Homo sapiens: one gene and its partners. The protein of the gene in region 4 purifies or fractionates together with the protein of the main gene of each other region. This does not show direct contact. Each region holds a gene or a part of one and is shown on either strand. Other genes may lie near its edges.

Evidence for each region.
Region 1: the proteins of ISM2 (region 4) and GALNT2 purify together in Homo sapiens (affinity purification with mass spectrometry; one large-scale study listed by BioGRID and IntAct). This does not show direct contact.
Region 2: the proteins of ISM2 (region 4) and PHLDB3 purify together in Homo sapiens (affinity purification with mass spectrometry; one large-scale study listed by BioGRID and IntAct). This does not show direct contact.
Region 3: the proteins of ISM2 (region 4) and DPY19L3 purify together in Homo sapiens (affinity purification with mass spectrometry; one large-scale study listed by BioGRID and IntAct). This does not show direct contact.
Region 5: the proteins of ISM2 (region 4) and LRCH2 purify together in Homo sapiens (affinity purification with mass spectrometry; one large-scale study listed by BioGRID and IntAct). This does not show direct contact.

The regions. Positions count from the first base shown.
Region 1 is NC_000001.11:230,072,574-230,078,519, forward strand, and holds part of GALNT2 (polypeptide N-acetylgalactosaminyltransferase 2 precursor), read left to right. Parts: intron 1-5,946. UniProt on the Homo sapiens protein: Catalyzes the initial reaction in O-linked oligosaccharide biosynthesis, the transfer of an N-acetyl-D-galactosamine residue to a serine or threonine residue on the protein receptor.
Region 2 is NC_000019.10:43,479,416-43,485,361, reverse strand, and holds part of PHLDB3 (pleckstrin homology-like domain family B member 3), read left to right. Parts: intron 1-5,768; coding exon 5,769-5,946.
Region 3 is NC_000019.10:32,435,306-32,441,251, reverse strand, and holds part of DPY19L3 (protein C-mannosyl-transferase DPY19L3), read right to left. Parts: intron 4,807-5,946; coding exon 4,685-4,806; intron 4,059-4,684; coding exon 3,913-4,058; intron 2,141-3,912; coding exon 2,017-2,140; intron 1,477-2,016; coding exon 1,342-1,476; intron 1-1,341. UniProt on the Homo sapiens protein: C-mannosyltransferase that mediates C-mannosylation of tryptophan residues on target proteins.
Region 4 is NC_000014.9:77,494,724-77,501,243, reverse strand, and holds the start of ISM2 (isthmin-2 isoform 1 precursor), read left to right. Parts: upstream 1-2,427; 5' UTR 2,428-2,450; coding exon 2,451-2,591; intron 2,592-6,520.
Region 5 is NC_000023.11:115,223,206-115,229,151, forward strand, and holds part of LRCH2 (leucine-rich repeat and calponin homology domain-containing protein 2), read right to left. Parts: intron 1-5,946. UniProt on the Homo sapiens protein: May play a role in the organization of the cytoskeleton.

The DNA of each region.
Region 1 (5,946 bases), on a different chromosome or scaffold from region 4:
TTTGTCCTTGTGAAGCCTCTTCTGGAAGCTCTGCATGGGTGATGCTGAGCCGTACAAGTCAGTGGATATCCAGATGGAAACACACTGGCTTAGCCATGCCACTCACATGTAACAGTGGGGCACTTCCATGCTGGTTGTTAAATATGCTCTGCCTTGAGACCCCCTGAGTGCCCTCCGGTTCCTAGCTGCCCTGGTCTTTCCTTGGGATCTCTTTCCCATGTTCAGCAATCAAAGGGTTGAATCCTGACACTTGAGGGGCCTCTTGGACCCACTTCTGTGCCTGTGCCATAGTGAACATGCTGATTGTCACCCCTGCAAATGTGCCACTTGGATAGAAGGAGGCCTAGCCCCACTTCCATGATGGGAACAATCCCTTTTCCCTCTGAGTAAGTCTTGATTCACTGTTACTGTTGAGAGTTCTGGTTCCACCATTGTAATCTTGTGGCCTTGCCTCTAGACTGCCTTATGGGTGAGGTGTTTTTAAGGAGGAGGGATGTCTTGGTACTTCCATATGCAAACCCCCCTGAATGGGTCTGGGATAGGCTGGGCCTGGCGGGGAACTCTCCTCTATGGAGAATTACATTGAATTCATTGATGTGTGCTCACCAGTGATCACTCCTGTCCTTAGAGTGGAACTTGACCTTGTTCTCTTAACAGTGTGAAGATTCCTTTACCTTGGCCCTGTGCTTGATCTTCATGATGAACCCAGTATGGAGTTGGCAGGAAAGCTGTCTTCAGATTACCTGCCCAGTCCAGAAAGCCTCTCCCACCTTTCTCTATTGTAAACCATGGAAATAAAAGGGGCTCAAGACACTAATCCATCTTCCCTGATGGGCCCCCACCTTTCTAGGGTTCCCTGCTCTAAGCAGGTGGCACTGTGCTCCTGCCTGGCTCTTGCCTCCTGCAGCACAGGGTGAAACACTGGCATTTTTGCACTTAGTCATGTCTACTAGTATGGGCCCCAGAAGCATGGGGTGTTTTATATGGATTAGGTTTCTTAGCATGCTGAAATGTAGATGACAGTGATTCATCAGGGCCGGATTTGGAGATAAACAAAAACTGTCACATAGAGTCTCACTCATAGGCTTACATTTAAAAAGCTTTCCCAGGCTATGGGAGTTATATGAGCCCCTTGTCTCACTGAGGCGGGCTGTCACAAAGAAGCAGTTAAGGGCTGGCTGCCTGGGGGCTGGGAAATGGGCCGATCCCTCATGGCTCAGCCTGCCCTTGCTGGCTGCTTGCCCTGGTCAACTGTCCCTTCTGCCGCAGCCTTCCAGGAGCTCCCCATGGAACAGAGAGTCTCTCCTAGGCCACTCTGCTGACCACCTCCTCCTGCCCATGGCTGGCAGTTTTCTGTCCCTAACTCTTAGGGAAGAGGAATGGCCAGGAGGGTTGGGGGTAGAGTTACTGAATTTCCAGAGTTCAGGTCAGGACATGCATTTGGGCAGGGACAAGGGTACTTTCGGGACTGTGGTTGCTCTGGTTCAGTTTCTTAACTCTGGCACCATTGACATTTTTGGCTGGCTTTTTTTTTTTTTTAAGACAGTTGTACTCTGCCACCCAGGTTAGAGCTCAGTGGTACAACCAGAGCTAACTGTAGCCTCAAACTCCTGGGCTCAGGTGATCCTTTCACCTCACCCTACCGAGTAGCTAAGACTATAGGCATGTGTCACCACAGCAGGCTAATTTTTAAATTTTTTGTAGGGACAGGGTTTCACTATGTTGCCCAGGCTGGGCTCAAGCGGTCCTCCTGCCTTGGCCTCCCAAAGCATTGGGATTCCAGGTGTGAGCGACTGCACTGGGCTGGATCATTCTTTGTTGTGCAAGGCTGTCCTCTGCATTGTATGATGTGTAGCAGCTTCCCCAGCCTCTCCCCACTAGATGCCAGTAGTTCTCCCACCCCTGATCTTCCAAGTTGTAACAACCAAAAATGTGCAGACATTGCCAAGTGTCCTGGCGAGGGTGGGAGGTGGGCAGAATTGCCCTTGGTAGAGAACCACTGCCTTAGTCCGTTAATTTTGATTTCATTCCTTCTGTCTGAGCCATTATGGTTAGACCTTCTTGTAATGAGACTGCCTTTCTGTGTGGTCTGGGGTGAACCACTGTGGGGAGGGCTAATATATTAATACGTTTTAATTTTCAAAATTTAATAAACACTTTCATGGCACTCACTGTGCATAGAAATAAAAGGGCTGCATTTCATCTCAGCCCTTTTATTTCTTCTAGTGTACTGATGAAACTGAAGCACAGAAAGGTTAAGTGACTTTCCCAAGGTCACAGAGCTCACAGGTGGCAGACCCAGGGTTGTCTGGTGGAAGAGATCTCCTCAGGGCCTCTGGAGGCAGTGGGGTTTTTCTGCAACTCCTGGCCGAGGGTTTCTGCCAGCCAGCAGTGAACCTGGCTTGCTCCTGCTCCCTGGGCCTCCCATGCCCCTTCCTTGCATTGGCAGTGCCCTCATACTGCGGCCTCATTTGGAAAGTTCCTGGAAGGCATCTTGGAGCAGATGCACACTTGATAATGCTTTGATAGTAGTGCTGGTCTGTTTTGCTTTTTTTTTTTTTTTTTTTTTTGAGACAAAGTCTCACTCTGTCGCCCAGGCTGGAGTGCAGTGGCACAATCTCGGCTCACTGCAACCTCCGCCTCCCGGGTTCAAGCGATTCTTGTGCCTCAGCCTCCTGAGTGGCTAGGATTACAGGCACCTACCACCATGCCCAGCTGATTTTTGTATTTTTAATAGAGACAGGGTTTCACCACCCAGGCTGGTCTCAAACTCCTGACCTCAAGTGATCCACCCACCTCGGCCTCCCAAAGTGCTGGGATTACAGGCGTGAGCCACCGTGCCCGGCTGCTCTTTTCTTCATTTTTACCTTTTGCTCCATGGAATTTGTGTTCCTACCCTCCAGGCCTCTGCCTGTCCTGAAGGCCGCAATCCTCAGCTGCCCCTCCGGAAGGAGCAGAGATGAAAACTGGCTCTGGTTCTTTTCATTTATTCTTTCAGTGAGTATCTCTTGAGACCCTCCTATGTGCCAGGCACTGCTTGAGTGTTTGGGAGTACACCAGTTGTTGTAGCAGACACGGAATCCTTGTGGTCTTGGAGCTTTCATTCTAGTGGGGGGCTGCGGGGAGCCAGACAGTAGACATGAAGTCAGTTACGTCGTGTGCAGAAAGGTGCTGTGTGCTGTGGAAAAAATAGAGCAGTGTATGGGGATTAGGGATGAGGGCGGAAGGATAGTTGCAGTATTAAAGTGGTGATCACGTAGGCTCATGGGGAAGGCAGGATTGGAGCTGAGACTAAGAGGGAGCCATTGTGGTTCCCTCTGCTTCAGAGGTAGCCCCTGGTTTCATCTTCGTCCAGCCTCTTTTTCGGTGATCTCTCTACTCCTTGGTTTCTTTTGCTAAACAAATGAGCCAGTTTTCTTTCCCGAAGGATGTTGCCTTTGGTTGGCTAGTGGTGGAGTTTCCCTCCATGCTGTAGACATCTTGGTCACCTGTTCTTGTTCTGGTCTCCTCGATGAGGCATGAATGCATCCTGGTTAAAAGGTTGTGTGTACTCTCATAATCGCTTCCCTTACTACAGACCTGCAGCTGCTCGAGGCAGTTTTAATTTAGACTGCTCCAGCAGTTTAATTTGCTGATCAGCTTCGTGGGATATGCTTGTGGAACAATCTCATTTCTTGATTCCTGAGCTGACTTCTGTGAAGCACCAAGCATCGGGTAAGTCATTCATTGTTAGGTGCACCATTGAAGAACAGTACACATTCTTAAAGTGCTTTCTGCACATATTGCTGTTTAACGAGAAATCCCCCTGGGTCCCTGTGCACCTTTTCCAGCACAGGATTTCCGCTGTGATGTGATCTTTGGGAGTTGCTGCGGGTGGGAGTGGGGTTTGTTGATTCATATTTGCAGGAAACCAGAGATCAGATGCCTGCCTGATACCCAGGCTTTGGAGAGGGGGGTTATTCTTGGCAATGTGGGTAACACTGAGCTTCTGTGATAGATAGTATTGTACTTGGGGACAGTAAAATGGAGATGTGACTTCATGGCCAATCTCAGGGAGGCGGAACTGTGGGAAGTTGTGGCTGGTCCTGGTTCTCAAGGTGAGGGCATGCAGGTGCTTTTCATAGAGGCCATTCTCATTTATGAAGGGTCATTAGATATTTTATCGGATTGGTAGGTACCAATCCCATAAAACCATTGGGATGGTTAGGCACCGTGCGTCCAGTGTACTTCTGGATAAAACAACTGGAGCATTTACATGGCGGGAAAAAGAACAGGTAATTTGAGAGGCCTTCACATTCAAGAGTGGCCATCAAGGTTTCTTCCTCTCTGCGTCAGAGACCAGTCCAGGGAGTGAACTCTTTTCTTTCTGACAGGCTGCTGCCCTAGAAAAATGACGCACTTCAAATGAAGGGTCTTTCTTAGCTAAATTGCCCTGTGAGAGCTTGAGGAGCCGGTGCAAATTAAAGGCCTGTGTTTTGGAGATGCCCATGAATTAAGTACTCTGTTATCAGTATTTGGGTAAGTGTAGATGACTGTTGGGTAGGGGCATTTGTATGGCTGTCCTGGATGATGAGAGGGTTGGCCCAGTGTGGGATGCCTCCCAGTCTCATTGTTTCCTCCTTGCTGCCTCTGGGGCTTTCCCCTTGACCTAGATGTTGAGCTTTTGCTCTGTGACCTTCAAAAGGCCTGCCCTGCCGCACTCTCCTTCCCCTCCTGCCCTTGTCCTGCCCCATCCCCTGTGCCAGGGAGCTCACTTAGTTGTCTTCCTGTCTCACTTTTGATCATCACTAATTTCCCCTGTGTCTGGAATACAACTTTTTCATCAATTCCGAGAGGCCATTATTTGTCAAACATGCCATTATTTTGTGGACCACTAGGAAAGAAAAAACACTGTCCATTGACCTGTGACACAACGGGTTCTTATCAGTTGGCATTCTTATTTTCTACTTATTGAAAGAGCTCTTTCAGACCGAGACATCAATTTTTCCATATATCACTCTCGGGCATAGATAGATACAAAGGAAAATACAAGTGAAATACATTGAGCAAAGTGTTCTAAAAGTTTTTCAGAGTCCAAGCACTCTGAGTCACTTTTTGACTCAGATGTTAGTGCCTATTTTCTTCAAACAGAGTCATCCACTGTGCCACCAAAAGCGCTGGTGATGTAGCATTTCCTAAGGAAAAAAATCCATAAAAATACTAAGAGCCATTGGTTCTGGACTTTGAAGACAGCTTGGCAATGAAGTCGAGGTAGCCAGCCTTTGACTCTTCTGGGAATTTTGCCTAACTCCTCAATTCACCATCCATTCCTATCCCACCATGATTTGGTTTTTAGGGATTAAGAGTGCTTGCTTCATTGTCGTTTCTTGGATTTTCTTCTAAGCCATTGACGTATATGTCCTGCAGATGTGGATGATTGAGCATGGGCTGGTAAGAATGCATCATGGGCCTTGCCCAGCCCATAGCATTGCCGACGTCATTGATTGTGAGCTGCATTCCAGTCGGGGGTGGTGGAGGAAAGGGCATCTTAGAATTGACCAATTACAGCCTTTCTTTTTCTCGTGTGTCACATTGCAGTTGGGCCTTCATATCTGCGGGTTGCACATCTGCAATTAAGGCAATTCCTACTTTATTAGTGGTTATATTATTAAAAATCCTTATTTTTTGAAGAACAATACAAACTGTGGATACAATGTGTCGTATTTGGGGGGGGATCATGGAAGAAGCCAGATGTGCTGTTGAAGTTGACCAGTGGGTTCATGGAGTTCATTCTACTGTTTTATTTTTGTGTACTTTTGAAAAGTTCATTTAAAAAATTTAAAAAGATATTTACTCATGTATGCAGCATAAATTAAAGAAGCAGCTGAAAACTAGTATTTTTGTAAAAAGCAGCTCAAAGGGTTTGTGATCGTATTAGTCCAGAGGTGCTTCTGCCTCACAGCTCTT
Region 2 (5,946 bases), on a different chromosome or scaffold from region 4:
CGGGCACCTGTAATCCCAGCTACTCAGGAGGCTGAGGCAGAGAATTGCTTGAACCTGGGAGGTGCAGGTTGCAGTGAGCCAAGATCACACCACTGCACTCCAGTCTTGGTGACAGACCAAGATTCTGTCTCAAAAAAAAAAACAAAAAACCTTTTTACGATAGAAATATTCAAGCATATGCATGAGAGAAGGAGTAGATTAATAGACCCCCAGGTGCCCACTGCGCAGCTTTAATCATTTTCAATATTGAATCTTGTACTTGCCAACTTTTTATTTATTTTATTTAACATTTTAATTTGTGTATGTACTAGGTATATATATTTTATTTTTATTTTTAATATTTTTCTTTTTTTCTCATAAGTCTTCTGCACTCCTATATTTTTAATGTATTTTATTTTTGTAGAGATAGAGTCTTGCTATGTTGTCCAGGCTGATCTCAAACTCCTGGCCTCAAACAATCCTCCCATGTCAGCCTCCAAGCTGCTAGAATTATAAGAATAATTCTAGGGCATTGGTGCCCAGCCACCAATTTTATTTTACTAATCCCATACCTACATCCCACTCTGCACTGAAATATTTTAAAGCAAAATATTGTATCCTTTCACTCAAACATCACTGTGTATCTCCAATAGATAGGCTTGTTTTTTGGGGGACAGAGTTTTACTCTTGTCGCCCAGGCTAGAGTGCAGTGATGTGATCTCAGCTCACTGGAACCTCTGCCTCCCTGGTTCAAGCGATTCTTCTACCTCAGCCTCCCGAGTAGCTGGGAGTACAGGTGCCCACCACCACACCCATTTATTTTTTTTGTTTGTTTTTAGTAGCGATGGGGTTTTGCCATGCTGTCCGGGCTGGTCTTGAACTCCTGACCTCAGGTGATCTGTGTGCCTTGGCCTCAAAAAGTGCTGGGATTAAAAGTGTAAGCCACTGTGCCTGGCCAATAAGTTTTTTTTTTTTTTTAACATAACAAAAATTCCATTGTCACATCTTATGAGATTATTAATTTCATTATATTGTAATATATAGTCCATATTCACATTTCTCTCATTGTCTCCAAAATATGTTTTTAAAAATTTATTTATTATTTTTCTTTTCCTTTTTTTTTTTTTTTTCCAAGATGGAGTCTCACTTTGTTGCCCAAGCTGGAGTGCAGTATTACAATCTCGGCTCACTGCAATCTCCGCCTCCAGGGTTCAAGCGATTCTCCCGCCTCAGCCTCTGGAGTAGCTAGGATTACAGGCGCCCACCACCATGCCTGGCTAATTTTGTATTTATAGTAGAGACGGGGTTTCACCATGTTGGCCAGGCTGGTTTTGAACTCCTGACCTCAGGTGATCCACCCGCTTTGGCCTCCCAAAGTGCTGGCATTACAGGCATGAGCTACCGTGCCTGGCCTTGTTTTCCATTTTTAACAGTAGAGACACTATGTTGGCCAGGCTGGTATTGAATTCCTGGCCTCGAGCCTCCCTTCTGGCCAAAGTGCTGAGATTATAGGCCTGAACCATCATGCCTGACCTAAAATATCTTTTCACAGTTGATTTATTTGAATCTATATGCAAAGCACACGCTATGCATTTGGTTTAATGTCTCTTAAATCTTTTAATCTCTAACAGTTCTGCCTCCCCATTAAAGAAAATGCTATTTATTTGTGGAAATAATCAAATAATTTATCCTGTTGACTTTTTCACATTCTTGATTTAGCTGACAACTCCCTTACATAAATTACATTTTTGCCTATACTAATAACATTCATAGAATCAATGCGTTTTGTTATAAAGAATGATAAAGCTAGGCACCATAGCTCACGCCTATAATCTCAGCACTTTGAGAGGCCGAGGTGGGAGGATCACTTGAGTCCCGGAGCTGGAGAACAGCCTGGGCAACATAGTCAGACCCTCATCTCTACAGAAATTTAAAAAATTAGCAGGTGTGGTGGTGCATGCCTTTGGTCCCAGCTACTCGGGAAAAGGCTAAGGTGGGAGGATTGCTTGAGCCCAGTGGGTGGAGGCTGCAGTGAGCTATAATCGCCCCACTGCACTCCAGCTTCAGTGACAGAGTGAGACCCTGCCTCAAAAAAAAAAAAGAATGATAGATAAAGTATTAAGAAAGTGGTCACTTTCTTCCTGATCTCACTTCTACTGCTGAGAAGCCTTCAAATCTGTGTTTATACTTTTCCACATGCACCAGTCAAGCCATATTTTGTGAATTTGTCTCATAAATAAGCACATCCTTCCCAACCTTTTTGTTTTTACCACCATTTGTCCTTCCCTTATTCATTTCAGCCCATATTTATTGAGTGCCTACTGTGTGCTAGACCCTGGGTCATAGCAGTGACCAAGATAACAATCCCCACCTTTGGGGGAAGCTGATGTTTTAAGGGGGAAGATGGACACAAAGCAACATCAATATGTAAAATAAATAGCATGTCAGAGGCTGATAAGAGCCAGGGAGCAAAATAAGGCAGGAACGGCAGTGGGGTCTTCTGCATTGTTAGGCATAAGCTTGTGCTCATTAAAAACGAAGCACAGGCCAGGCGTGGTGGCTCACGCCTGTAATCCCAGCATTTTGGGAGGCTGAGGTGGGCAGATCACCTGAGGTCAGGAGTTCGAGACCAGCCTGACCAACATGGAGAAACCCCGTCTCTACTGAAAATACAAAAATCATCTGGGCGTGGTGGCATGTGCCTATAGTCACAGCTACCCGAGAGGCTGAGGCAGGAGAATCGCTTGAACTGGGAAGCAGAGGTTGCAATGAGCCAAGATCACACCACTGCTCTCCAGCCTGGGTGACAGAGCGAGACTCTGTCTCAAAACAAACAAACAAACAAACAAACAGAATTGCTCCTGCTCTGGTGTTCTGCCTGGCTTCTAGCATCATCATTTATTAAACAGTCCCCTGCTGTGTGCTTTGTCCCCTGCCGTACACCCCTGCTATCTTTTGTGCACGTGAGCAAGTGTGTCCCTGGGCTTCACACCTAGAAGAGGAACCTCTAGGTGAGAGACCCTGAGGGCAGCCAGCTCATCCTTGAAACAGCCCCAGAGGAGAGTGCTGTGATAACCCTGGTGTTTTAGCATAGGGAACTGAGGCTCCCAGAGGGGCAGGAGTTCTGTGGAGGTGACACAGCCGGGCAGTGGTGGAGTCCCAAGCCCATCCCTGGTCTCCTCCTAGATTGGGGCCCAGCTCCCCTACATCCTAGTTTGGTGACCTTGGAGAGTCACCTCTTCTTAAAGCCTCAGTTTCTTGATCTGTCTAGCAGGAACATTAATGGGTTCTTTTGGAGAAGAAACGAGGTAATCACAGTGACCACTTGGCATAGTGCCTGACACAGAGCGGGAGCTTCCACACACAGTGGTGATCCTTGGTCTTTCTGTGTGGATTTGGGGAGATTGCAGGCCCAGCGGGTACTCTTTAAACCTGGCCTTTCCCTCCCTTCCTTTCCCTCCTCCCTAATCCTTCTCATTTCCCCACCTCACTCTCCTGTCTCCAACCAGCAGATCTCATCTCTGTTTCTCATCCCTTCTTGCTCTGGCCTTGCTTCAGTTTTCTTTCTTTTCTTTCTTTTTTTTTTTTTGAGACATGGTCTCCCTTTGTCACCCAGCCTGGAGTGCCGTGGTGTGATCTCGGCTCACTGCAACCCCCACCTCCTGGGCTCAAGCGATCCTCCCACCTCAGCCTCCTAATTAGCCGGGATCCTAGGCACACACCACCATGCCTGGCTAATGTTTGTATTTTTGTATTTTTTTTTTGAGATGGAGTTTCGCTCTTGTTGCCAAGGCTGGAGTGCAATGGTGCCATCTTGATTCACCGCAACCTCCACCTCCCGAGTTCAAGCGATTCTCCTGCCTCAGCCTCCTGAGTAGCTGGGATTACAGGCATGCGCCACCACGCCTGGCTAATTTTGTATTTTCAGCAGAGACAGGGTTTCTCCATGTTGGTCAGGCTGGTCTCAAACTCCCAACCTCAGGTGATCCCCCCACCTTGGCTTCCCAAAGTGCTGGGATTGTAGGCGTGAGCCACCACGCCCAGCCTAATTTTTGTATTTTTTGTAGAGACGGGGTTTCGCCATGTTGCCCCAGGCTGGTCTCAAACTCCTGGGTTTAAGTGATCCTCCCCTCTTGGCCTCCCAAAGTGCTGGGATTACACGTGTGAGCCACCGCACCCATCCTGCTTCAGTTTTCTAACTCCTTGACACTCAAAGTGTGGCTGGTGGAACAGCAGCATCAGGGCCCACCTGGGAGCTTGTCAGACATGCAGAACCTCTCCCCCTACTCCAGACTCCACCCTGAAATGACTGAATCAGAGTCTGCATTTTAACATTTTAACAAAATCCCCAGCGGATCTGCTTGCATGAAGAAATCTGAGATGTACTACCCTGAACCTCAGTTTGACCTCCGGAATCATACCACTGTTTGCAGGGATTATTTGGGAAGAATAGGTTGGATCAGACCAGCTCATGGTCAGGCTCTCATAAATAGTGGACACTTGTATTGCCTTAAATCCTCCTCCCCAACCTGTATGACCATCTGAGGTGACCACTCTACCTGGTGAGTCCTGGCTCTGTCAGCTCTGGCTGTGTGACTTGTGCCGAGTGACTTAACCTCTCTGAGTCTTGGTTTCCACATCTGTGAAACGGAGATAAATGTACTTACCCCTTCAGGAGAGTTTGAGGGGGCAGAGATTATACCTAGAAAGTACTTAGCAGAGGATTATATTCATTAATTTCATCACAACAATAATAATGTAAACAAGCTCTCTCTTTCTTTTTTATTTTTGAGACAGGGTCTCACTCAATCACCCAGGCTGGAGTGCAGTGGTGCAATCATAGCTCAATGCAATTTCGATCTCCTGGGCTCAAGTGATCCTCCTGGGCTCAGCCTCCTTAGTAGCTGGAACTACAGGTGTGCAGCACTAGGCCCAGCTAATTTTTTGGATTTTTAGTAGAGATGGGGTCTCACTATATTGCCCAGGCTGGTCTCCAACTCATAGCCTCAAGTGATCCTCCCACTTCAGCTTCCCAAAGTGCTGAGATTACAGGCATGAGCCACTGCACATAGCTTCTCTTCTCTCTCTCCTTTTTTTTTTTTTTTTTTTTTTTTTTTTAAATAGAGAAGGGGTCTTCTGTGTTGCCCAGGCTGGTTTCCAACTTCTGGGATCAAGGGATCCTCCCACCGCAGCCTCCTGAGTAGCTGGAATTACAGGCTTAAGCCACCACACAGGCTCCAATCTTCATTTCTTTTTTCCAAAAAAAATTTTTTTTTTTCAGAGACAGGATCTCACTATGTTGCCCAGGCTGCCCTTGAATTCTTAGGCCTAAGGGATCCTCCTACCTCAGCCTCCCAAAGTTCTGAGATTACAGGCATAAGCCACCACACCCGGCCCGATCTTTATTTCTTTTGATAGGCCTCTGATGTTTCAGGGTGAGCTCTAGGGTCAGAAATACCTGGGTTCGTGTCCCAGTTCTGCTGCCTAGAAGCTCTGTGTGACCTCGGGTGCATTATGTCATCTCTCTGTACCTCATTTTGCTCATTTGTAAAATGGGGCTCACAGTTGCCATGAAGTGCCAAGGAGCTGATGTCCATAAAGTCCTGGGCAGAGCATCACAGTCAATCCACGTAGCCGTTGCATTTGTCAGATGGTCCTAGTTAATATTACCCTCTAAAGGCTGTAGCGGGCCTTACATGCAAGCTGCTATGACTTGCTCCCCTCGAGGGGCTCCAGGCTGTAGAATCCCCCGCCCCTTACATCAGCTGCCCCGTCTCTTTGCTCCCCAGGCCCCACCCACCCCACCCCACCCTCCAGGCCCGCGAATCTTGGATCTCCGGCAGCATCTGGAGGGATGGGGCCACAACCCGGAAAACTGCCCACATGTGCAGGTGTCTGGGTGCTGCTGCCGTGGACCCCTGGTGAAGATGGGCGGCCGCATCAAGACCTGGAGGAAGCGATGGTTCT
Region 3 (5,946 bases), on a different chromosome or scaffold from region 4:
TCCAGTTTTTTATTTCTTTTTATCTTTTCCGCCCAGCTTTTTCTTATTACAATACAACTAAAATGAACATGGCAGATTATTTACTTAGGACAAACTTATAGGGGTAGAAATGTTGGTGAAAAGGCAAATACATTTTTAGGCTTTTGATACCTACTGTGAAACTACACTAAAGAAAGATTATAGGAGTGTATAGGTTACCAGCAGTGTAGGAGTGGTCACTGGCACACCTGCAGAAACACTAAACATTTCATATACATATATAAACTTAGTCCTATCTACTTGCTCTTGCTGCATTCCACCTTCCTATTCTGCCCCCACCCCTGACATCCCACCCAAATTCTACCCTCACTTGTGATCTAGGTGGTCCAGTTCTAGCTTCTTACTTCTGTAAACACTTCTCTGCCTAAAAATAACTTTTCTTCTTTTAGATATATCAGTATTGCTAATTAGCAGCTATCATTTGTCTGCTTGTTCTTGTTGTCTGTGATCTTTGTTTCCCAAGCTAAAAGGCAAACTGTGGCTATGACAATGAATTACACATATTGGCATTTTCTGTAGTGCCCATTCTATTACAGTGTCTCAGTAGACAGGCAATGTGTATTTCTTGGTAGACTTTTATGTTTCTTAATTCAGACTCAGTCAGTTATGGAAGCTTACTGGATCTCCTTTGATATGGAATAAATGAGCACAAATCCTTGGGCTATGCTGCTGCCTTAGATATGGAGAAAGTATTTTATTATACTTGGGAAATATTTAAGTTACTACTACTTTAGAATACTAACTATAAGCCATTTTAAAACTGTACGCAATACATAAAATCATATTTTTGCACATGAAAAAATGTGATTAAATGACAGCAGCAGACATTAGGAGACAGATACTGGTTTCTTTATTTCACATGTGACTTTCAGCCAGTCAACAGGGATTCACATCCCATATTAGTTAAATGTGACTATGAAAATTTTATAAAGTACTACAAAAAAGCTGTTATATACCTATTGATTTCTTTTTTAAAAGTGGCAGTACACAGTAAGACATTTTAAAAGAGCTATCTTATATTTTAAAATTTAAGTCATCTCTATAAATAACAATTGACCTAGGCATTTATGCCCCAAAATAAAATCCATTCCATTTTTTAACTTAAAATAAGCGAATAAAAGTTAAGATGGTCAAACTAGGCTTCATAAATTACTCAGCTTCAATTGGCCACAGCAAATTTACAGCAGATCTAAGAAACAGCTTCAATTTTATCCATAAGTACTTGCATATTTTCATCTCATTCTATGATATAAAAACACTAAATGGCCAAAATCTCAAGTGAGAAAAGAAAGCAAAGCTCACCTTCACTGCTGGCAGCATGTCCAGGGAGTCCAGTGTGAACAGCACTAATGCTTGCATCAGCATCATAAATTGATTAAATTGCCATGTCAGACTAAAGAGAAAAGTTGATATGAAAATGGCAAGAAGTGTCAGCCTCTGTAAAAAGAAAACCTTTGTATAATTTACATGTCTCTAGTAATAAAAAACCTTGCAGACAAGTTTTCTCAAGAGCAGCCAGTATCTCTATAAACCAAACAGAAAAACCATAAACTGTTGCTCTGAAAACCCTTGCATTTGTTATTTAAGCTCTAACTATCATAAAGTGACACTTTGCATATAAATATTCACATACGGTGTGTGTATTCCACACTATTATGGAGGCGATAATGCACCAAATCACATCTCAAGAGCAAGGGCTTAAAAATTCTGACAGTTTGCAGAAATTGTGTGTGGGTTTGCTGCAACTATTTAAGGGTAGATTATGTAGAGTACATTTTTAACATCAAAAATGAAAACATTTTCTTTGCAAAGTAGAAAAAAGCTCACGAAAAGAAAACTTAATTTAACTCAAGTTTAAAAATTGGTCATGGAATAAGAACTATTCACATGCATTGGGATACTAAGCACATCACATTTTTTGAAGCTTCATATATAAAATTGGGGGATTAAAATATATGAAATTTTATAAACACTTACTTCAGAAAGAGGCTGTAAGTTTGGTCTCAGGAAATATGTAATTGCTGCTATCTGAATTGCAAAGAATGGCAGCGCCCAGTTCTCCCTCAGTGGGATGGTAAACTCAACTCTTGTGGTATCTATTCTGCACAAAAGAAAACACAAATGGCCAAAGTGATAGTTTTTACAATAATTTCCTCGAAGACTTCCTCAACGAAAGATATATTACATTAAGGACAAGTATACTTAAGATTCTGGCCACTGGTTCTCAATAATTGTCCTTATCATCATCATCATCATCATCATCATCATCCCTGTAACATAAAATTGGCATAGAGAACATTTAAGTGCTCTGTCCATGGGTATGCCCTTAGCACCTAGGGTTCAAGCCCAGGTTAGCCTTACTCCTAAACTCACAAATGTATCATGCCAAACCCTTACTTTCATTTCTCCCTCACTTTATTAGTGTCAAGAGGCAATACACATTTTCCCTCTCTCTGTATTTCTTTGGTGTTTTTTATACTTGAGTCTTAAATATGTCATTGACAGTATTTTTTAAAAAAACTTCCTGCCTCTCTAGAATGTGAATCCCAACAGGGCAAGTATGGGTAAAATTTTTCATCTTTGTACACCATCCCCACACATACTAGGCATTCAATAAATGATACACTTATGTAACACATAATATACGTGTGTGTATCTACATCTCAAACAAGGTACCTATATCTACATATATCTCTCTATAAAAGATAGAGATATATATGAAACAATGTATCAAACAATGTATCTATATCTACATATATCTCTATATAAAAGAAATATATATAGATGTCTGTAATATCTGTATCTATATACAAAATGTAACCTTTAAAGCCTCAATTTTATCATTTCTAAAATGGGGATAATAATAATATCTACTCTATAGGGTTCTTCTAAGAACCCATATAACACATATTGTAAAGTGCTTGGCATACAGTAAACCCCCAACAGGACTGTCATAACACGTAATTTGCTTAGACTTACAAAATAAAACCTGTATTAGAACTCATGTTCAAGTTTTAAGACTCCTATTGAATACTGGTATTGCCATTATAGGACAGGCAATAATTTAATGATCTTGAATACATTTTTTTAAAATGTGATTTCATAAGGCTCTACTGCTTATAATAGTAGATATTAAATAAGGCAAAAACGCCCTTGCATTTTATCTTTAAGCTCTACTAACTGAGAGCCATACACAACCCTATTAAGGTTGATAGTGAAGATATAATTAAAACTTTTTAGGCAAGGCACAGTAGCTCATGCCTGTAATCTTGATACTTTGGGAGGCCAAGGTGGGAGGACTGCTTGAAGCCAGGAGTTCAAGACCAGCCTGGGCAACATAGGGAGATCCTGTCTCTACAAAAAACAAAAACAACCCCTAAATAAATAAAAATTTTAAAAGTCTTCATTGGCTTTAAAAAACAGCAAGAAAAAAACCCAAAAAACTTTTTAATGACTGATACGTTAATTACCTTGATCTGATCACTATACATTCTATATGTATTGAAATATCACTATGTAGCCCATGAATATGTATAATTATTATTTGCCAATTTAAAAAAACCCTTTAAGAGATGAGATATGCGGCTGGAGAAATCTTGATCACCCAGCAAACAGATAATAGGTTTGGGATTATTATGAATGATTTTCTTGATATGCAATTCAATGCTCTCTGTTCCTCAGCTGGAATTACATGTAAGTAGCACTTTCTCCCTAACTAAATAAGAAAAATTGAGTAAACCACCAGGCAAACCAAAGAGAAACTGCTCCCAACCAAACAAATGTGGCAGAAGAAATTTCTCTGAGCTGGAAATGAAGTGACTTCATTTTTACTTACATTTTGGAAAAAAAAGAAGCATACTGACTCCAACTCACCTATTTGTGACATACCAGAAAGCTGCCAACAGTCCTGACAGCCATGTACCACTGAGTAGCCAGCTGGTTATGTAGAGAGCTGTGACATAGATCGCCTGGAGCCCAAATAAGGTGTAAATATAAAAATAAACTGGCTCTAAATATTTCTGTAAAAGGGAACAATAAAACATGTTTGTCAGGTGAGCCCTAACCCTCCTCAGTGCCATTTAAAACATGACAGTAGGAATACAATATGCAGGAGCTTGCCTCTAATTCCAAGCAGCAAGCCCACACCCCTTTCATCTATTAGAGAAGCGTTCGGGTAGCCTTTCTTCCCACCACCGAGAAGAGACAGGGGAAGGAAGTCCGTGACAGGTCTGGCTTCACTCTTTACTCTAGAAAGTTTTATACCTAACTTTGTCTGATGATACGTCATTCACATGAGAAGTGGTCATTGTGATTTGCTGACTTTACAAATTTTTTCTCTCAAAGATCCATCAGGAGTGAATGTGTAATCACTCCTGATTACAGAGAGCAAATGAAAATATTTATTAGCTTCTAGACCGCATACATACATAAGCCAGGAAGCATCTGTGTACAAAAACCTTATATCCTATGTAAATAAAAAGCAGTATCTTATAAAGTTCATAATATACATGGAAAAAAAATATAGTATTGCTGATTTTCTACTAAACCAGTTGAAGATCAGAAAGAACGATGTGATAACTTTCAGTTCAAAATGGCAGACTTTGACTTTCATCTGATATTAATAATTCAATATCACAAAACATACCTGTATGGGTAGAACTCTATATAAAATACTGAGAAAAACCTCTTGGTAAATATTCATTCGCTGAAGGAGGTTAATTGTCTTCATAGATTCAGTTTTATTATCATATATTAGGCCATGAAAACCTATAGATATGTGAAAAGTCAGGAAGAAAATAATTACACTCATAATTATTCATTCATTCAAAACTATGCACAGATTGTTTAGTAAGTGCTAGAGACTGTGGTAGGCATTGGGGATATAAGAGTAAGCAAAAAAAACATACTCCTGCCCTCAAAGAGCTTACCACATATTCGATGGACATCATTTAAACATTTACACAAACATAGGTAAATTAAAACTTTTGTAACTGGAATGAAACCACCACCACCACCACCACAAGGTCCTTCTCTAGAAATGTGGGCAAGAGGATTTCACATTTCTCCACCCTGCCCTCCTGCCATGCAACCTGCAGTATCTCCTTTGGGAGAGTATACATGGCCTTCCTTCTCCACTCCCCAGAACGGCTTTGGCCATGTGCTCTAACCAGTGGCATGTAAGTGGATGTAAGCCATAGCTGAGCAGAGGCTTTAGAAGACAAGGCATGTTTCTACCAGCTCTTGCTCTTGCCCTCTGCCATGACACTGGCACATTCCAAATAGGGCTTGAATGCGCAGATGTTGGGGGCAGACCAGAGCTGCAGCTCCCTCACAGCAGACATGTCATGAGAAGGATGAAGGAGAACTTGACCTGCTGTTACAGAGATCCACAGCCACAGAGGTCCTCTGTCACTGTAACCAGGCTAATTAATCCAAGGCATGAATGGATAGTTCACAGAAGAAAACATGCACACAGTCCTTCCACACAGGAGAAGATCCTCAACCTTGCTCCTATTAAAACAGTGCAAATTAAAACTACCCTGAGGGATGCTAGTTCTCACCTACTGCCTTGGCAAAAAAAGTTTTACAATACACTCTGTGAGATTATAAAAAAGTAGACTCCTATATACTACAGTTGGGAATACAAAATGGTGTCATCTCTATGGAGAGGAATTTTGCAGTATCCAGCAAAATCACATATGAATTTACCCTTTGACCTAGAAAGCCCATGTCTAGGAATCAATCCCACACAAAGGCTGGCAAAAATACAAAATGACATTGGCACAAGGTCACTCATGCAGCACCATTTGTACCAGCAAAAGATTGATCCAAAACAACCCAGATGTTCCTCAATAGGAGGTGCTGTGGACTGAAATGTGTCCCCCACAAATTTGTATGCTGAAGCCC
Region 4 (6,520 bases):
TACTAGGGAGGCTGAAGGCAGGAGAATCACTTGAACCTGGGAGGCGGAGGTTGCAGTGAGCCGAGATCACGCCACTGCACTCCAGCCCGGGGCGACAGAGCGAGACTCCATCTTAAAGAAAAAAAGAAAAGATAATCAGCTTCATGGGGAGTGGGGGAGGGTAAAAACAAGAGTGGGTGCAGCAGGACCAATTAGGCTATTTATAGTTGGGGGCGTGGCTTGGAGTCCAGTGGTGATGCTCTTCATGGAGACAGGTGCTCATGAATGAATGAACTCATTGTCTTCCAAGTCTCCTTTCATCTGGTGGAAGGTGCAGGAGTGTGGTAAAAAGACAAAATAATAGGCAGGATGTAAAAATATTTATACCAAAAAAAAAAAAAATTCCTGAAAAAGAACAAGGTGGCCTTGCCTTTAGTCTAGTAAATGCAATATGGTCTAGCAGGTGCTCATAAACAGGGTTTCTTTAGGCTAACATTTGAGTGTTTACCATGTACCAGGCACCCTATTAGGTTGCACCATATGAAATTGCCAATATTCGACCTTTTGAACAAAACATGGCAACTTCATATAGTTCATTCTAATACAAATTCTCAACATGGAAACCTGGCTTCTCATTTACTCACATTTACTTCTCATTTACTCACATTTACTTCACATTTACTTCTCATTTACTCACACTTCTCACACTTGGTGCCCAGGTGAGAGGGGTAACCTCTCCTGCTCCCGGGCCCCCACACTTTTACAGATGACAAGAGCACGAAGACGTCAAATAATTTGTCCAATAATATCACCTACTTGGTAAATGGTGAAAGATTCCAGTCCCCATGGCCGAATCCAGACCCAGGTTGTCATCCCTGTGATGCACCATTCAAAACCCTGCAGCTGTGCCCCTGGGAATAGGAGTAGTTCCAGAAAAGCACACAGTCCCCCCACAGTCTTACTCTAACTTGACCCAGACCCAGCAGTTTACACCAGTAGCTGGGCTTGCTCTTCATCCTCTCTACCACCCCTGGGGATCCACCAACCCTGCCCTGAAACTTGAGTCATCCTTTGTGCGCCCTGCTATGACCCCTGGGTGGGCATGTCCCCAGTGCCTTGTGACTGCTCCTCACCGACCTGTCCCAACCCCTCCCCCTACCTGGTGTCACTGCGTTCACATTCCCAAGCTGCCCCATCCAGATTGGCACTGCCTCTCAAGAGTTCCTGATCTTTGCCACAAGCTAAGGTTTTGTGTCGGTTGCTCAGAGGCAGGCCATCTTGGTGACCCTCGTGGCCTACGTGAGGATCCCTGCACCAAGGGTCCCACTGGATGAAGTGGGCAGTTTCACTGTTTCACCCAGGATACAACTAGGCGACGACCAGACTCCCGGCTGTCCTTCTGGGACTTTATCCTCACATCTGAGTCTCAACTTTCTCCTGTTTTGTTTTCTGAGACAGGGTCGCACTCTGTCGCCTAGGTTGGAGTGCAATAGTGCAATCTCGGCTCACTGCAGCCTCTGCCTCCCAGGTGCAAGCGATTCTCCCACCTGTGTGTGGGCCAGGTGCGCCGGACCTCGGGGCTCCCACCCGCTGGGACTACGGGTGCGCGCTGCCACGCCCGGCTAATTTTTGTATTTTTAGTAGAGACGGGGTTTCACCTTGTTGGCCAGGCTGGTCTCAACTCCTGACCTCAAGTGATCTTCCTGCCTCGGCCTCCCAAACTGCTGGGATTACAGGCGTGAGCCACCGGCCGACTCTCCGGTTTTTAAAAGTGCTCTGAGAACATTCCGAGGACACTGGGTGCAGAATGGCAGGTGCTGGCTTGTGCCTCTGCTCTGGTCTCCACCTCCGGCAGTAGACTGGGAAGAGCCCTGGGGGAGTTACTTCTAGGCTTCCTCCCCAGCAAACCTTCCTCGAGGCATAACCAAACATCTGCCCGGCATCCGAAGACTCGCGCCACTCTCCCGTCGGGCTGCGCCTCCCTCGCCCGCGCGGCACCGCCGGTCCAGGTCGCAGTTGGAGCGCGGTCGGGGAGGGCAGAGGTGGCGTCGGACCCTCAGGGCCCCGCAGGAGTCGCAGCGCAGGGCCGGAGCGCGCCGGGCCGCAGCTTCCCGCGAACAGGAATTCGCTGGGGGCTGCGACGGCGACAGCGGCGGGGACTGAGGGCGGGGAGGCGGCCAGATCAAAGAGAGCCGCCCACAGGGTCAAGACGGGTCGGGGAGCGCCGAGGGGCCCCTCGGAGGAGGGTGGGGGACGTCCAGGTGCGCGGACCCTAGAGCTGTGCGGGCGCCCACGCGAGGAGCCGGGGCCAGAGAGGCTGTGCGAGCTGCGCGCCCCCGCCCCGCGCGGCCCCGTGCCCCGCGCGCCCCTCAGGATCGCCGGGTCCCGCCCCCGGAGGAGGCGAGGCGGGGCGCGACTGGGTTCGCGGCCGCGTGCAGAGGTGCAGGCAGAGCAGCCTCGGAACCGAGACGATGCGTGCGCTCCGCGACCGAGCCGGGCTCCTCCTCTGCGTGCTGCTGCTGGCGGCGCTGCTGGAGGCGGCGCTAGGGCTCCCCGTGAAGAAGCCGCGGCTCCGCGGACCACGGCCTGGGAGCCTCACGAGGCTCGCAGAGGTGAGTGGCGGCGGCACCGGGCTGCGGAGCGCGCTGTCGGTCCCACCTCCCCAGCCCGCCGGCTCCAGCCGTGCGGGGAGCGGGACCGGGACACACACAGGCAGCGACCCCCCGATGGAGAGAGGGGCCGGGGCCGGCCGGAAGCTCCCGGACACCGGGCGTTGCCCAGGTGCGCCGGACTTCGGGGCTTCCACTCCTCGCGCGTGACCGCGAGCCGGGCTGCCGCGGACCAGCCGGGTGACAAGTTTGACTTCTGTGCGGAGTGAGGTGGCCGACACTCCACGGTGGCCGGGCTTCCTCGCCCTGAGCGGACCTCGCCTGCAGCCCCCTTTCCAGGTGCGCGCTAGCTCGGAGAGGAGTCCCGCCGGTGCGAGGAATCTGGCGCTTTGCGGAGTGGCGGGCCAGGGCCGCTGAGGTTCAAACGGTCAGGTGAGCCCCTTCCATGAGACAAGCGGAGGCACAGTGGGGCTCTCCAGCCGCCGGCAGGGGTGGCCAGCCTGAGACTGGCTCTGTCCTCGTGGCCTGTGGGTGGGCATTGGGGTATAAAACAGGAATGAGATGGAAGAGTGGTGTTGGCCATGGAGAGAAGCCATGGTCTGTCAAACCCTGTGTCTTCCAGTCACTGAGGGGTCTACAGTCCAGCTTATTGCCCCCTGGAATGCAGCGGACGTTCATTCCCATGGGGACAAAGACAGCCAGACTTGTATTAGGGTATGCAGGAGCAGTCCTATGTGGCAGGTGGTCTTAGGTCTTGGGTCCTGGGTCCTTCCATGTACTAAGCTGTAGGAGGCCCGAATAGCTCTTCCCATCTTGCCGTTTTTCCTTCCTTCCTTCCTTCCTTCCTTCCTTCCTTCCTTCCTTCCTTCCTTCCTTCCTTCCTTCCCTCCCTCCCTCCCTCCCTCCCTCCCTCCCTCCTTCCTTCCTACTTTTTCTTTCTCCCTCTCTTTTATTTTATTTTTGGGACAGGATCTCTCTCTGTCACCCAGGCTGGAGTGCGGTGGTGTGATGATAGCTCACTGTAGCCTCAACCTCCCGGACTCAATCGATCCTCCAGCCTCAGCCTCCTGGGTACCTGGGAGCGCAGGCATGCACCACCACACCTGGCTAATTTTTTTTATTTTTTATTTTGTAGAGATGGGGGGGTCTCACTGTGTGTCCCAGGCTGGTCTTGAACTTCTGACCTCAAGCAATCCTCCTGCCTCAGCCTCCCATAGTGCCAGTATTACAGGCATGAGCCATGGTGCCCAGCCATTCTTCTTCTTCCTTTTTTTTTTTTTTTTTTTTTGAGACAGAGCCTCATTGTGTTGCCCAGGCTGGAGTGCAGTGGCACGATCTTGGCTCACTGCAACTTCTGCCACCCGAGTTCAAGCTATTCTCCTGCCTCAGCCTCCCAAGTAGCTGGGATAACAGGCGCCTGCCACCGCGCCTGGCTAATTTTTGTATTTTTAGTAGAGACAGGGTTTCACCATCTTGGCCAGGCCGGTCTTGAGCTCCTGACCTCATGATCCACCTGCCTCGGCCTCCCAAAGTGCTGGGATTACAGGTGTGAGCCACTGCACCCAGCCATTCTTCCCATTTTTGAGATGACGACACTGAGGGTCCATATAGGCATGCAGGGTGTGGGAGATTGTGAGTGAGTGAGTGAGAGAGTGAGAGCCAGAACTTGTCCAGACTGCTGAAACCCTCCAAAGGCCGTGGGAAGGAATGGGGAGACTGGCTGCACTTGAGGATGTGTCTGTAGACCAGTTTTGCTACCTTTTTTTCTGCCCCCTTAAGGAGTCTTTTAGGTTTTTTTCCTGTCCCCACTCCCCATGAATTTTTTTTTTTTTTTTTTTTTTTTTTTTTTTTTTTTTCCTGAGATGGAGTCTCACTCTGTCACCCAGGCTGGAATGCGGTGGCACAATCTTGGCTCACTGCAACCTCCGCCTCTCGGGTTCAAGCAATTCTCCTGCCTTAGCCTCCCCAGTAGCTGGGATCACAGGCTCACGCCACCACGCCCGGCTAATTTTTGTATTTTTAGTCAAGACAGGGTTTCACCATGTTGGCCAGGCTGGTCTCGAACTGGCTGGTCTCGAACTCCTGACCTTATGATCCACCTGCCTAGGCCTCCCTAAGTGCTGGGATTACAGGTGTGAGCCGCCACGCCCGGCTATTTTTTTTCCCGGAGACGGAGTTTTGCTCTTGTTGCCCAGACTGGAGTGCAATGGCGTGATCTTGGCTCACCACAACCTCCGCCTCCTGGGTTCAAGCGATTCTCCTGCCTCTGCCTCCCGAGTAGCTAGGATTACAGGCATGCGCCACCACACCCAGCTAATTTTGTATTTTTAGTAGAGATGGGGTTTCTGCATGTTGGTCAGGCTGGTCTTGAACTCCCGACCTCAGGTGACCTGCCCACCTCAGCCTCCCAAAGTGCTGGGATTACAGGCGTGAGCCACCATGCCCGGCTGAATTTTTTTTTTTTTTTTTGGCATGGAGTCTTGCTCAATCTCGGCTCACTGCATCCTCCACCTTCCAAGTTCAAGCGATTCTCCTGCCTCAGCCTCAAGAGTAGCTGGGATTACAGATGCCTGCCACCACGCCCAGCTAATTTTTGTATTTTTTTAGTAGAGATGGGGTTTCGTCATGTTGACCAGGCTGGTCTCAAACTCCTGACCTCAAGTGATCCATCTGCCTTGGCCTCCCAAAGTACTGGGCTTACAGGTGTCAGCCACCACGCCCGACCTCCCCATGACATTTTAATACCATAGATACACTGTCTATGTATTATAGCCCTTTGGAATGTCACAAACCATTGTAATATCTTAAGACTTTTTGGTCCCTCACAAGATCTAGTTATTGCCCCTATTGAGAATGCATCCTTTAGACTGGCTCTTCTCAGCCTCGGCACCCTCGTCATTTTGGGGCATATAATTCTTTGTGGTAGGGGCTGTTGTCTTATGCTTCATAGAACGTTTAGCAGCATTCCTGGCCTCTACCCACTAGGCGCCTGTAGCACTTGCCGCCTCACGAGGCCCAGACACTCCACATGCTTCCTGTGGGACACCCTATCCCCACTGCCCGTAGTGGAGAATGACTGTTGTAGACAGATGAGGCCTCTCGCCAGTCCCTCCTCCTACATGGAGATGACAGTGATAATAAAATTAACTAAATTGGCATTGTTTCTGCTCACTTGGCATGAATACTTTCTATTTTAGTACTTACTGCTTTGTATTGTAATTATTTTTAGCATGTTTGCCAAATCTTCCCCTAACAAGAACACCCTAGAGGATGAGTTATTTCAGAGCCAAAATCATATCCTCAGCTCCCGTACAAAGCCTGGCAGAGTCATCAAAAACATGTGAAAACAAATTAGTGCCACAATGAAAAAGCAGAGCTTAGAGTCTAGGCCTTGGAGTTCTGGTCCCAGTGGGTCATTAATGCATGTGTGACTCACCTCGGATGATTTCCTCACATTTAAAAAGAGGGGCCTGCGTGGTGGCTCACACCTGTAATCCCAGCACTTTGGGAGGCCAAGGTGGGAGAATTGCTTGAGCCCAGGAGTTCAAGACCAGCCTGAGCAACATGGCGAAAACCCATCTCTACCCCCCAAAAAATACAAAAATTAGCTGAGCGTGATGGTGCGCCCCCCGTAGTCTCAGCTACTCTGGAGGCTGAGGTGGGAGGATCTCCTGAGCCCAGGAGGCAAGAGTTGCAGTGAGCTGAGATCGCGCCACTGCACTCCAACCTGGGTGACAAAGCGAGACCCTGTCTCAAAAATAAATAAATAAAATGAAAAAAGAGAGCTGAGAGAGCCTAAGTCATCTTTATGGTTCTGTCCAGCTCTGACATCGTTCCATGAGTCTTCATGATTTGTGTTAAAGCTGTCTATGGCAAAGGTGTTAGTTTAAGGAGTCATGTTGAGAGAATGCAGATTGCTATTCTAGGGACTT
Region 5 (5,946 bases), on a different chromosome or scaffold from region 4:
ATGTAAAAAAATGAAAGAGCTAAAACTATAAACTCAGAATACATAAGGATAAATCGTTCTGACCCTGGGTTAGGCAATGCTTCCTTAGACATGACACAAAAAGCACAAGCAACATAAGAAAATAGATAAAATAGGTGATATCAGTATGTTTTAATTTTGTGTTTCAGAGTAGATGAACCAACAGAATAGGAAAGAAATATTTGCAAGTGATATATCTGATAAAAAACTTGAATATAGAATTTTTTTTTTAAAAAAACCTCTTACAACTCAGTAATGAAAAGACACCCCAATTAGTAAATGGACAAAGGGTCCTAATAGACATTTTGCTTATGAAAATATACAAATAGTCAATAAGCACATGAAAAGATGTTCAACATCATTAGTCATGAGGAAAAGTCAAATCAAATCCACAATGAAATCCTGACTCACGCTGGGCACGGTGGCTCACGCTTGTAATCCCAACACTCTGGGAAGCTGAGGCAGGTGGATCACCTGAGATCAGGAGTTCAAGACCAGCCTGGCCAACATGGTGAAACCCCGTCTCTACTGGAAAAAAAAAAAAATACAAAAATTAGCCAGGCATGGTGGCACACGCCTGTAATCATAGCTACTCAGGAGGCTGAGGCAGGAGAATCGCTTGAGCCCAGGAGGCGGAGGTTGCAGTGAGCCGAGATTGCATCACTGCACTCCAGCCTGGGCGACAAGAACGAAACTCGGTCTCGAAAAAAAAAAAAGAAGAAGAAGAAGGAAAGAAATACTGCCTCATACCCACTAGGATGGCTATAAACAAAAAGATAAAAACAACTGCTGCTGAGAATGCAAAAAAAATTGGAATTCTCATAATACTGGTACATGCTACAACATAAATGAACTTTGAAAACATAGTAAGTTAAAGAAGCCAATCATAAAAGGTCACATCCTGAATTAAGTCATTTACATAAAATGTACAGATGGGGTAAATCTATAGAGACAGAAAATAGATGAATGGTTGCCTAGGGTTTGATTGGTTGGGGAGGAGGCAGGGAGAATGGAAAGGGATTTATTTGTACAGGATTTCTTTCAGGGGGAGATGAAAATATTCCAAAACTAAATTATAGTGATGGGTGCACAGCTAACAACCAATCAACAATATACTTTAAATTGGTCCACTTTTGGTCTGTGAACTCTCAATAAAATGTTAAAAAGAAAAGAAGTAGGCCAGGTGCAGTGGCTCACCCCTGTAATCCCAGCACTTTGGGAGGCCAAGGCAGGTGGGTCACCTGAGTCCAGAAGTTCAAGACCAGCCTGGGCAACATGATGAAACCCTGTCTCTACAAAAAAATACAAAAATTAGCTGTGCATGGTAGCACACCCCTGTGGTCCCAGCTACTCGGGAGGCTGAGGTAGGAGGATCACTTGAGCCTGGGAGGTTGAGGCTGCAGTGAGCCGTGATTGTGCCACTGTACTCCAGCCTTGGCAATACAGCGAGACTCTGTCAAAAAAAAAAAAAAAGAAAAAAGAAAGGGAGAAAAGAAGTAGATACAGAAGCCAAGGCCCTTGGTCCCTAAAGTTTCACAATTTCACTGAAAAATCACTGAAATGAGGCAGATTGATTAAAAGCAGAAAAGGCATACAAGTTTACTTAAAGTATATATATGGGAGCCTTCAGAATTAAGACCCAAAGGAGGAATTGCCTATTTTATGCTTAGGTTCAACAAAGTATGGACAGCCCAGCTGTGCAGAAATATGATTGGCCAAAAAGAATATATTCTAAAGCTGACAGACTGAGTGGGGAAACCTAGCAAGGCCTGTCTGCCTATTAAATAGATTCTTCTAGGCCTCTCTGAGCCTGTATTCCTTCCTTCTGACTGTGGGGCAGGGCCCTCTCTGGAATGGGGGTCTTAAGACCTACAGTCAAACAAGGTAGGTTAGATCATTTCTTTGTGTCCAGTTTTTACACAGAAAGGCAGAGGGGAAATTAGAGTAATATTTTTAGGTCTTATGGCTGGCTTTCAGGAAAAGGGGTTCTGGCTTCTGTGATCCTCCTTGGGGAAGAGGGATTCTAGTTTCTACGGCTAGCCTTGGAGGAGAATGGGACAGAGAGACAGGAGGGCAGGACAAAGTCAGTGCAAAACTTCTGCTTCTGAGGCTGCTGCTGAGGCCTTCATTTGGGGGTATTGTTTTCTGAGCCCCAACATAGGTAAGGATGGATCTGAAAAAAGATAATCCATATGTAAAAACAGGAACATGGAACTCCACCTCGTGCTATACATAAAAATCGATTCCATATGAATTAAGAACTTTAATACCAAAAACAAAACTAAAACTCTTAGTAAAAAATGTAGATGAATATATTTTACATATTCTTAAACAGGACACAGAAATCATTGACTACAAAATTCAAGATTGATACATTTGGCTGTATTAAAATTTACAAATTTGTCCATCAAAACACCCCTCAAAGAGCAAAAAGGCAAGTTATAAACAAGATATTCAAAATATACAAAACAAATGATTAGTATAAGGAGTATTTTTTTAAACCCATAGAATTCTATTTTTTAAAAAAGGACAACCAACCAACAGAAAATGGGCAAAATAAATGAAAAGCTATTTCACAGTACAGGAAAGACATATGACCAACAGACATCTGAAGAAAGGTTAACATCATTCGTGATCAGGGGAATGTAAATCAAGAAAGACTTCATCGAAATACCTTTTTAAACACACTTGGTCAAAATTTTTAAATTTGACAGTACTGTTTTGGAGGGCACATAGATTCATAGGATCTCCTATACATGTCAATGGAAACAGAAATGATAAATCGGTTTGAACACTGACATACTATACAACCCAGCAATTCCATTTTCAAGTATATACACAAGAGAAATCCTTGCACAAGTACAAGAGACATGTATAATAATGATAGTAGTGCTATTCCCAAGAGAAAAAGGAGGAGGGGGGAATGAAAATGGCTATCAGTGAGAAAGTGAATAAAGATGGTATATTCACATGATGCAAGATAACACAGCCATCCAAAAGAATGAACCACAGTTTTACATAACAATTTGGATGAATCTTAGCAATTTAATTTTAACTAATAAAATATAAAAATTACCACAGTTAAATAAAACATAGTGTATGTATTACTTTTTTTAATGTTCAAAACAAGGAATAAGGAAATAAGATTTTGAAACGTACGGCTTGAAAACTGGCTACTGGCTTGAAGGTGTTTTAGTAACATTGTTTTAGTAACACATGACAATCAGATTTGCATATTAGAAAGAATGGTTTAGCTACAGTGTGGAGGACTAACTAATTTAAGTTGAAGAAAACTTGAGACAGAGAGATCATTTAGAAAACTACTGACAGGTCCAGTTAAAGGTAAGGAATAGAGGAGAATCTGAACAATGACATTGAGAATAGAAAGGAATGAAACTGATCTGAAAGCTATTCAAAGAGTTATGACCAACAGGCCTTAGTCCCTCACTAGATATAGAGGCTGAGGGAAAGGGAAGAGTGGAGAATAACTCCCAAGTTTTAGATCTGGGTGACAAGGGGGCCTAGGGTGAATAACGAGAGTTCATTATTTGACATATTGAGTTTGAGGAGACTCTGAGATATCAGCATTCATGTAGTTTCCTCCATCTAAGAATAACTATAAAATCTGATGCCTCCTCTCTAAAGGCCAATCCTCCAACTTCTTTATAAAGCCCCCCTCTGCTGTTCAAACGACCAAATCAAATGTTATCCCTCCCTCTTTGAACCTATGCTGCACTTTCCATTTATCTTACTCTAACCCAGGGTTTCTCAACCTTGGCACCATGGACATTTTAGACAAGTTAAGTCTTTGTTGTATGGGGCTGTCCTTTTCAATGTAGGATGCTTGGCAGCATCCCTTGCCTCTACCCACTAGATGTCAGTAGCAACCCCCAAATTGTGATAATCAAAAATGTCTTCAGCCAGGTGTGGTGCTGCAGGACTATAGTCCAAGCTACTCAGCAGGCTGAGACAGGAGGATCACTTGAGCCCCCGAGTTAGAGCCTGTGAACAGCCACTATATTCCAGCCCAGGCAACATAGCCAGGGCAACATAGCAAGGCCTTGTCTCTTAAAAAAAAAAAAAAAAGTCTCCAGATACTGTCAAATATCCTCTGGAGGCAACCTCTCCAACCCTACCCTTCCCCACAATGAGAACTACTGATCTAGGATATAATAGGTATATGAGTTCTTATTTTAAACCATTATGAAATCATTAACTCACTGAAAGCAGCAACTTTACAACCTTTACAAAATATCTATATGACAAATCCATTCTTACATACTCATTAAGGTAGTTTAAGGACACAGTCATCTATGTTTAATTTACTATTTCTAATTCACAAAAACCTTTAAATGTAATTATTTCCCATTGACATAGACATCCCCAACCAAGTAGCTCAAAATACTAAGGATTTACGTATTGCAATTATTTTTTTAAGAAGTGAAAAACTCTAGACTATACATACTAGATTCTCTTAGGAACATAATCATTAACAAAAAGCCATTTCTGAGTGAAATCCAAATTCACAAATGTTCTAGAATCAGTTCATCTCCATATGGTTCAAAGAAAAGTTTATGTCACAGTTATCTTATACCTGTCTCTTGTCACCTTGAATCTCTAATATTCTACTGAGACAAGTAATTAATCTAAAAATAAAGTGACAACATTCTCTGTCACAAATTAGAAAAGACTACACAGAATCAAGTGTTCCTGAAAAGGAAAGAACTTACTTTCCTATTTGGAAAAAACTTTTCCTCAAAGAATTTGATATAAAAAATACATTAGAAAATATCTACTGTTGAATTATCCATTACAGTCCATTGACAGGTATTCTGTTAATGGAATGCTATCTATTTACATGAAACAAGAGAAATGTAAAGATTAAACATTACAGTTTGACCTTTAGCAGATTGAGTGCACTAGCTGAAAGTGAGAGTAAACATAAACTTACATTGTTATTAAATTGGCTTATACAGTTTTCTTTAATTACATTAAATGGTTCCCTGGCGTGTAAGGTATTTTTTTTTCTGTAAATGAGAAGCAGACAACCCTTTCTGAAACTTTCCAGATAACTGATTATAAGAGTATTACAATGTTTTAAGAAGCACCCAAATACACTCAAAGTGTAGAGAAAAAAAGAAAACTAAAATATTTCCCTTTCTAGGTCATGATGATCACTAGCCTCTGCAGAATGGGGAGGTGTGTATCATGCAGTTAAGGCATCTCACAGAGTGGGCTGCTAGGCTGGGCTGGGAGAACAAGATGCCTCTTTTGCAAAGTTTCACTGTGTGCCTAGGAACTTAAACAAATGGCACCTCCCAGCAAATCAATTTTGTAAGTCTTCAATTATCTTTATTTGTAGTAAGTGTCCCTAGCATTACTTCTTATGTTCTCAGTGAGGTTCTGGATCTTGTCTACCTTCATGCCAAATAAATGCTTCAGAATTTATATCACAAATAATCTAAATTGAAATATTAAATTTAAACCTTAAGCAAAAGTATTCCACTAACCCCAATTTTAAAACATCCCAATCAACCACTTCTGTTCTTATACCTGTCATGCAACAAATACCTAACCTAACTTTTCAGGAAGCTTTCTCAAACTAAATTAATCCCCTCTAAAATTAAGCCTTATGCCACAGTTCCAGATCTCTTATGTGTACAGTATATTAAAATATATTATTTTGAATACTATTATATATTATAGTGAAATTCTTTTCTAATGGTTATATTACTGTATACATTTGACTATTGTATAAATCCTTTAAGTACAAAAACCATGTCTCTTTTTATTAGCCATAATCATGTTTCCAAAGTAGGAGTTCAATAAATGCTTGCTTAATGAATCTATTCTAAAACCATAAGAGAGGCATGATAGCTATGCAAATACACACAAAACAAAACACACCATACCACAAACAAAAAGTAT